Linked DNA regions of Homo sapiens: regions 2 and 3 are each linked to region 1. The links come from fine-mapping of genetic effects on gene expression. A gene starts in region 1. Each other region holds a variant in brackets. All regions are shown on one strand. Distances are between the middles of the regions. Region 1 holds the start of NUP54 (nucleoporin 54). Region 2 overlaps NUP54 (nucleoporin 54). Region 3 has its middle 22 kb from the start of CCNG2.

Region 1 (2,769 bases):
TATGGCAGCCAGAGGGATCTTCTAAAAACAAAATTCTAGTCATACTAGTCCTCTGCCTAAAACCCCTTAAAGGTTTCCCATTACCCTCAAGAAATAGTCTGAAATCCTTACCATAATTTACAAGGCAATATAATATAATGGTAATTTTTACAAATTGGGACTCTGGAGTGGAGAAACATGAGTCCAAAACCAGACTCCAGAACCTACCTGCAAGGTGACTTTGGGCAAGCTGCTTAACAACTCCAAACCTCAATTCTCTCATCTCACCTGCAAAATACAGTTACAGAATCTTCTCTATTTATTTATTCTGAGGATTAAATTATATTACAAGTACAACAGAGGGGGCCCACTCTTCCCCTCTTTTTCAGTGCTCCCCTTAGAGCTGTGGTTAGGAGTATTTACTCTGTAAACAGCCTGACCCTTTGGTACCTGTTTCCTCTTTTATAAATTGGAGATAGCAGCAACCCACCTCATAAGATAGCTGATTAAATTATGTAAAATGTCTAGAAGAGTGCCTGGCACATAGTAAACGCAACGTGTTTGCTACAATTCCATTCGCTTTCATTTCTTCCAACGTGCATCCTCTTTACTGCTTCTGCTCCGTCTACTCATCCTTCAGCACTGGGTTCAAATACCACCTCCTCGTGGGTGTTGGGGGGGTTCTCAACCCCAGCCCTGCTGCCCGACCTCCCAGGCCCGCTAGTTGATGAGGCAGCAACTTCAACCCTACCACATACAAATTCTAGCTGTCTACCGCGTATCCCTACAGTAACAACTTCAGCCTCTGCACACCTTTCCCAAAGAACCTCCCTACGGCAGTTTTTAAAGGACTCTCAGGCGGCACACCCTCGCGAGCGTCCCAGCATTTTACCTTAACAGTGACACCCCACAGCATGTGAAGCCCACCGGAAGTGAGCTGGCTGGGGGCGTTCCCTCACAACCACCCACCTCCTACGCCCTTGGCGCCTTCCGGCCTCTTAGGCTAGGTCAGAAAGGAGGCGGAACTCGGTGATCTGACTGGCGGTTTCCCGGCCGGACTGAGAAGGGGAGCGCGCTGCGCGTCGCAGGAGTAACCTACTTGGTCTCCTGCTTTCGCGACATGGCCTTCAATTTTGGGGCTCCCTCGGGCACCTCCGGTACCGCTGCAGCCACCGCGGCCCCCGCGGGTGAGTGATCCCCCTAGACCTTCACCCGGGAAGAAGGGGAAGGGTCTGGTCCGCCCCCTCTGTCCGAGACTCTCCGACCTGGGGATCCTGGAATCTCCCGCCGACGCGGAGACTTTAGAGGCATTGGAAAAGGGCGGGCGGCGGCAGAGTGGGCCGAGGCGGCACCCGAGGAGGCCACGGGGGTACTCGGGGTCCCACTAGAAGCTCGCTTGCCGCGCGTGAGTTTCCACAGGGCCCTGGCTTGAGCGGTTCGCTTCCCGCTGCCGGGGAGTCCTACTCAGAGAAATTGGAGGTTGCTTCCCTCTCCCCTTGCCCGAGAACCTCCCTCCCCTCTGCACCTCAGCCTCCTGGATGGGCGGGAACGCTTGCGTGGTTCCCGCTGCCGGACTCGGCGAGGATAGGGCTGGGGATCCACCGGCACTGCCCATTGACTCCCTTAGTTCCACCCCCGGCCCCCTGTGGTCCTCGCTGTGGGGTTTATCCGTCATGCTTCTTCCATCTGCCCCACCCCACCCCCACTCTGCTTTCTTAAACTGTTTGGAGCAAAACCAGGTTTGTTCACTTCTGTGAAACCTCCTGCTGATTCTTCTAATCCTTATCTTGCTTTCTTTTCTTTTTCCCTCTCCCCCTTTTTAAAATTTTGTTTCTTTGCCTACACGCCTATCAGGATTTGGTGGGCTTGAGACTGCCAACTCCACCGCCAGTGGGTTTAATTTTGGGGGTTTCGGATTAACTGCTAATCCTGCAGTGAACTTTAATATTGGGAATTTCGGTGTTTCTACTACCTCGGCGACTCCGTTCAATTTTGGTAACAGTCTGGCAAGTGCAGGTAGATACTGCGGGTTGTATGTGTAACCAGTGTTGGGAGCTGGAGTCCAAGAATATTGTGGTTCCTGGAGTTTGGGAAAGAACAGTTACTTGTCTAATAGGGAAAGGAAATTTATTTCCTTATCTCGAATCAAAAACATCTGTATCAAGTTTTTACTGCCTTAAAAGATGTGGTTTAGGAAAGTTTTGCAAGTTACAGTGTTCCTTTATTAAATGTGCACTTATCTTCCAAATGATAAGCATTTGGATTATAATTTTGAATAGATCTTTAAAATTATTAGGTAGGACTTCCAAAGTATAAACTCACCACCAGTCAAGCCCATCCTGGGATTCTTGGACTCCTGCAGTCATTTTTCATTTTTTCTGCATCTTTCATTGAGATTTCATTTTATTGTCCTTGTGTTTCCAAAGAGAAACAAGTCTTATACGAACAGCAGTAACCTGTTTTGTTTTTTAACTTGTGTTATAATGATAATAATGTATTTCTTTGGTCAACTCAGCAGATTAGGATACTATAAGATGTGTAATTTCTATAAGATTTGTAATTATAGAAAGAATCCCCAGTTCTTTGCTGGAATTTTGGGAAATGCTCAAAGAGAGCAGTTTAGTTTTATGTGATATAGCATCGAATTCTAAAAGGTAAGCTAGACGTCTTTGCATTCAAAAAGATAATTATGAAGATTTTCATATGCACGTGGGTTGTTTGCAGCTCATTAGAAATTTTGCAAAACAATAATGATATATACATTTAAAATAGGTTTATGGGTACTTTACA
Region 2 (2,769 bases), 24 kb after region 1:
TTGCCTCATTGCTAAATTTCCTAGAGCTCTAAAGATATCTTTGCATGATTCTTTTAAAAAAATTTTAGGTATGTAAAAAGGGAAGAAATATAAAGCACAGATTTATAGGGAAAGAGTTTATATTTTGAGAGATGAATCTCAGGCTTATCCCAAGATTAGAATTTCCATACAGGTGTAACTGATAAATAGTTGTGATATTTGATTAACCCTCCCCCCCCCAATTTTTTTTTAAACAGATCATATCTGAAGATATTAGTGAGCTACAAAAGAATCAAACTACATCTGTAGCCAAAATTGCACAATACAAGAGGAAACTCATGGATCTTTCCCATAGAACTTTACAGGTAGTAATTTGGATTTTCCCCCCCAGTGTTTATAAGACTATGTGTGTGAAATAATGTACTAAATATAGATTTTTAAAATAGAAAAAAAAATACTAAAATGAAAGAATAATGTGAAATTACAAGTACCGAATTCTTTCAGTAAAACTTTGAAATTGGAAAACAAGTCTCATAGGTTTGAGTGAGGAGAATAAAAATATCCTAAAGTTCGTATTTTAGTGACAGTTTGAGGGAAAGCAGTGAAGAAATAAAGCATCTTAGTGCAAGGGAAGCTTCTGTGAGATTATTGATGTCTCATAAATTTCATAAAATAGTTTCATAAAATAGTTCAGAAAATTTTTTGAGTGCTAGAAAAAGGAGTGTAACCATAATGGTCGAAAAACAATAGAATTTCCAAATTAACAGGAGGAATTAAAAGAATAATAACAACTGAAATTATAAACTATCATGAAAACAGAAATATTACATACCAGAACCAGTGGGAAACAGCAAAATCTGTACTCAGAGGAAAACTTACAGCCATAAAAAATTCTCATTTAAAAAAATCAAATGTGAAAAATAAAGGAACTTAGTACTCATGTTAAATTAGAAAAGGAATATCAAGATAAGCCAAAAGAAACTAAAAAGAAAGAAAGATAAATGTGAAATTAGTGAAAGACTAAAAAATGTAATAGTGGAAAGAATAAATTAAAAAACTGTTTCTTTGAAAAGACCGTTAAAATTACTAAGCATCTCATCAGCTGGAAGAAGGGAAAAACAGAGTAAAATATACAAAATTAGTAGTGGGAAAAGAGGCATCACCGTAGATATACAAAACAGAATAAGAAGATACTGCATGGGCCGGGCAC[A/G]GTGTCTCACTCTTGTAATCCTAGAACTTTGGGAGGCCGAGGTGAGTGGATTGCCTGAGCTCAGGAGTTCAAGACCAGCCTGGGCAACACGGTGAAACCCCATCTCTACTAAAATACAAAAAAATCAGCCAGGCATGGTTGCTTGTGCCTGTAGTTCCAGTTACTTGGGAGGCTGAGGCACGAGAATTGCTTGAACCTGGGAGGCGGAGGTTGCAGTGAGCCGAGATCACGCCACTGCACTCCAGCCTAGGCTACAGAGCAAGACTCCATCTCAGAAAAAAGGAGAAAAAAAAAAGAAGATGCTGCATGTACTTTAGGGTAACAGATTTGGAACTCAGAGGAAGTTTTATTTTGATTTTTCTATGAAAATGAAAATTACCAAAATCTACAGAGAAGTAAGAAAACAAATACCACAGAAACAGTTGGAAAAATGAAAGATGAAACATGAAAAAGGCCTTAGGGACAGATAGTTTCATTGCCAAATTTTGTCTAACCACAAAAGAGCTAATCCAGTGTTATTTTGATTATTCTAGACAATTGAGGAATAATTTATACAGCTTCATTTGTTCTTTTTTCACAGCTTAAGATAATTTGCATACCATACTATTTACTCATTTAAAGTGTACAATTCAATGGCTTTTAGTATATTCAGAGACTTGTATAACCGTTATTACCACAATCAATTTTAGAACATTTCTGTCACCCTACAGACAAATCCCGTACCCATTGTCAGTCACTTCCCCGTTTCACTGCAAATCTGTCAGTCCTATGCAACCAGTTTTGCCTATATGGGTTTGCCTGTTCTGGAAACCTCATATAAATGGAATCATAACGATATATGGTCTTTTGTGACTGGCTTTTACTTAGCATAATGTTTTCAAAGTTCAACTGTGTTGTACCATGTAATAGTACTTCAGGTACTAATAAATGATTATTATTCATTTATTGCTGAATATTCCATCATATGGCTATACCACATTTTACTCAATTGATGGACATTTTGGTGGTTCTCCTTTTTGGCTATTATGAATAATATTGCTATTAAAATTTATTTACAAGTGTTTGTTTGGACATATACTTCTATTTCTCTTGGGTATAAACCTAGGAGTGAAATTGCTGTGTCATATGCACACTATGTTTAACTTTTTGAGGAACTACGTAAACTGTTTTCCAAAGCAACTGTACCATTTTACATTTCTGTTTGTAGCATCTCAAAAAAAGAAATTATAAACAGCTATTTTAAAGAGATGCAAATTATGCTAAGTGAAAAAAGCCAGACTTAAAGGCTGTGTAAGGCATGATTCTATTTATATAACATTATACAAAAGAAAATTAGGGACAGATAACAGATTAGTAGTTGCCAGGGACTGTAGATGAAGAGAGAAGTGTGACTACAAGGGGCTTGGGGTGATGGAAATATTCTGTATCTTAATCACTGTGGTGGTTACACGACTGTATGTATTTGCCAGATTCATAGAACTGAACACCTAAAACAGGTGAATTGTCATATGTAGAGTATACCTCAAATCGGACCAAAAAACCACATTCTAAATGAAGTATAAGCAAAGAGAATCCAGCTA
Region 3 (2,769 bases), 990 kb before region 1:
ACCTCCACCTCTAGGGTTCAAGCAATTCTCCTGCCTCAGCCTCCCAAGTAGCTGGTATTACCAGCGCATGCCACCACAATCAGCTGATTTTTGTATTTTTAGTAGAGACGGGGTTTTGCCATGTCGGCCAGGCTGGTCTTGAACTCTTTACCTCAGGTGATCTGCCCACTTCGGCCTTCCAAAGTGCTGGGGTTACAGACATTAGTCATGGTGCCTTGCCAAGCACATTCTTAAAACTTTGTTTTTACTGCTACTGCACTAGTGACAAAATACAATGACTTCTAGTATGGTCTGGTGCCACTGCCTTGAGTCGTACTCAGATGCCAGATTTTTTTTTTTTTAAATTTAAGAGACAGGGTCAGTCTCACTGTCTTGCCCAGGCTGGTCCCAAACTACTGGGCTCAAGTGATCCTCCCACCTCGGCCTCCCGAAGTGCTGGGATTACAGGTGTGAGCCGCCATGCCTGGCCAATGCCAGCAATTTTAACCACCATTTCTTTACACCATGAGTACAAAGGTCAATGAAGTTAAATAGTAAAAGATCATATCATCTTAGTATTATAGTAAAAATAATTTTGACCTCACCGACTCCAGAAAGGATCTCCCCAAACTCACATAGACCACTCAAAACTGCTGCACATGACAAATGAAAAAATACCAGGCCACAGTGTTCTTTTGAAAAGTTTGCATGTGAGTCAGGACCACATAAATGTGAAAGATTGGACCTTTCTCTCCTGTTCTAAAAAGAGATTTCCCCAGATCACTATGCTGGATACAAAAAGGAAAATAAAAAAGGAAAGAAAGGGAGAAAGGAGGATTTATTGAATGTTATATTAAACAAGACAGTCATGTCGATGGTCCCTCCTGGGGAGGCAGCACTCAGCTGCCATGATCTATCATGAGACCATATGGACCCTCCATAACACCCACCATCCACATCATCTCCTAGCCATGACTTTAGACTGAAGACATTCAATATAATGGCTCATAGAAACCAGGATATTATGAGGACATTAATGCAAGAGCTCTTCCAAAACAGATATTATCTAGAGAAATCAGACTCTTTCTCTTCAAAGTTTAAAAGAGCAAATATAAAAAAGAACCAGCCAGATGTAGATGACACACAAGCTGAGAGGGGAAAAAACACTTAGAGAAAATGAGGGTAGTCTGAGCTATGACAGGTCATCAGCACACAAAAGTTATAAGATGAAACTATAAGAAGGAGACATGGCTGGGCACAGTAGCTTATGTCTGTAATCCTTAGCAATTTGAGAGGCCAAGACAGGCCAATGGCCTGAGCCCAGAAGTCTTCAAGACCAGCCTGAGAAACATGGAAAAACACTGTCTCAAAAAAAAAGGCGCGCGCGAGAGAGAGACAATGAGTAAGAAAAAACAGAAAACAATGAGGTAGAGAAAAGAGACTGAATAGAAGGTGGACAGGAGAGGCAGAAGCAATAAAGGTGGAGACAAAGAGGAACCAACCCACTATAATTGTTAATTGTGGAGGGTCAGCAAACTTTTGCTACTGAATGATTAGCTAGAAAATTCAGGGCTTACAGGCTGGGTGCCACAGCTCATACCTGTAATCCCAGTGCTTTGGGAGGCCAAGGCAGGAGGATGGCTTGAAGTTGAAGTCAGGAGTTTGAGACCAGCTAATATATATATACACACACACACACACACACACACACATACACATACACACACA[C/TACAC]ACATATATACACATATACATATACATATACATATACATATACATATACATATACATATACATTGAGCTGGGCATACTGGCATGCACCTGTAGTCTCAACTACTGGGGAAGCTGAGGTGGGAGGATTGCTTGAGCCCAGGATTGGAGGCTGCGGTGAGCTGTGATTGGGCCAGTGCACTCCAGCCTGGGTGATATCGTCTCAAAAAAAAAAAGAAAAAAAAAGAAAAATTAGGGCTTAGAACTGCAATGCCAGGCCTTAGCTTGTAGGTGAGATTCTTTTTGTCTATGTATATCTTTCTGAAAACCCACTATTAAAAAACAAAACAAAACGAAAACTTGAGTGAGCCTCTGTTCTTGGTATCCAATGGCATCTAAATCATATTTACTGGGAAAGGCAACCTGCCAGGTGCTTTCACATCACTATCTCGGTTTTAAACTGTTATTTTTCAATTTAAGCATATGTACCGATAATGGTTCCAAACATCAGCTGCGATGGGAGATAACAAAGTTGACATGGTTTTTATGTTCCATAATCCATATGGAGGACACAAGCCCAAGGGAACTGTATAGCTGAAGAATTTGTCGATTTTTCCTCCTCTTTCAAAAAGAGAAAAGGAAGTGAACTTCATAGCATTAGGGTGATAAAGAGGAGAAAATGGTGTATCTAGTTGGGAGCCTCTTAGTGACAAAAACCAAATCCAGTTGAATTAAGTGAAGCAAACAAGGAGAATTTATGATATGACTGCAGCGGTATCTGATGGAAGCATAAGGGACATGTGGGCCTGATTTCCTCTGTGCCTCCCATTTGTGTTTCTCTCTATGTAACCATCACATTCTTCTGTCCATGCACCCCAGCTTACTCTGTTTCCCTGTCTGCCTGGCAGAATAAGGCCACACACAACTCACAAGTGTGTAGATTACTGATCTGTCTCATAGGGAAATTGAATCAATCTCCCTCCTTCTCTTTCTTCATCCTTGCCTCTACTCCTTATCCACCTCAATTCCAAATTTGTAGAGTAAGTGCTCAGATTGGTCCAGCGTTGGTCAATAGTCACTCTTGGT

The links. PIP is the estimated chance that this variant, and not a neighbour inherited with it, causes the effect.
Region 2: its variant is fine-mapped to the expression of NUP54 in whole blood (TOPMed, PIP above 0.99). The same link has a PIP of 0.9 or more in blood mononuclear cells.
Region 3: its variant is fine-mapped to the expression of NUP54 in monocytes after LPS (Quach 2016, PIP 0.95).

Annotation. Positions count from the first base shown.
Region 1 is chr4:76,146,705-76,149,473 of GRCh38, reverse strand. NUP54 (nucleoporin 54) reads left to right here and starts at 1,077. Exons shown (of 12, transcript NM_017426.4): 1 at 1,077-1,166. The coding sequence starts at 1,100. LOC124900718 (a long non-coding RNA gene) reads right to left here and starts at 925. Exons shown (of 2, transcript XR_007058144.1): 1 at 872-925; 2 at 1-267. RefSeq lists an enhancer at 968-1,127.
Region 2 is chr4:76,122,224-76,124,992 of GRCh38, reverse strand. NUP54 (nucleoporin 54) reads left to right here. Exons shown (of 12, transcript NM_017426.4): 9 at 237-344. Among named protein-coding and RNA genes, the nearest start is that of NUP54, 25 kb to the left of the region's middle. The variant A/G (reference allele first, on the strand shown) is at 1,190.
Region 3 is chr4:77,134,025-77,136,793 of GRCh38, reverse strand. No RefSeq gene overlaps it. Among named protein-coding and RNA genes, the nearest start is that of CCNG2, 22 kb to the left of the region's middle. The variant C/TACAC (reference allele first, on the strand shown) is at 1,708.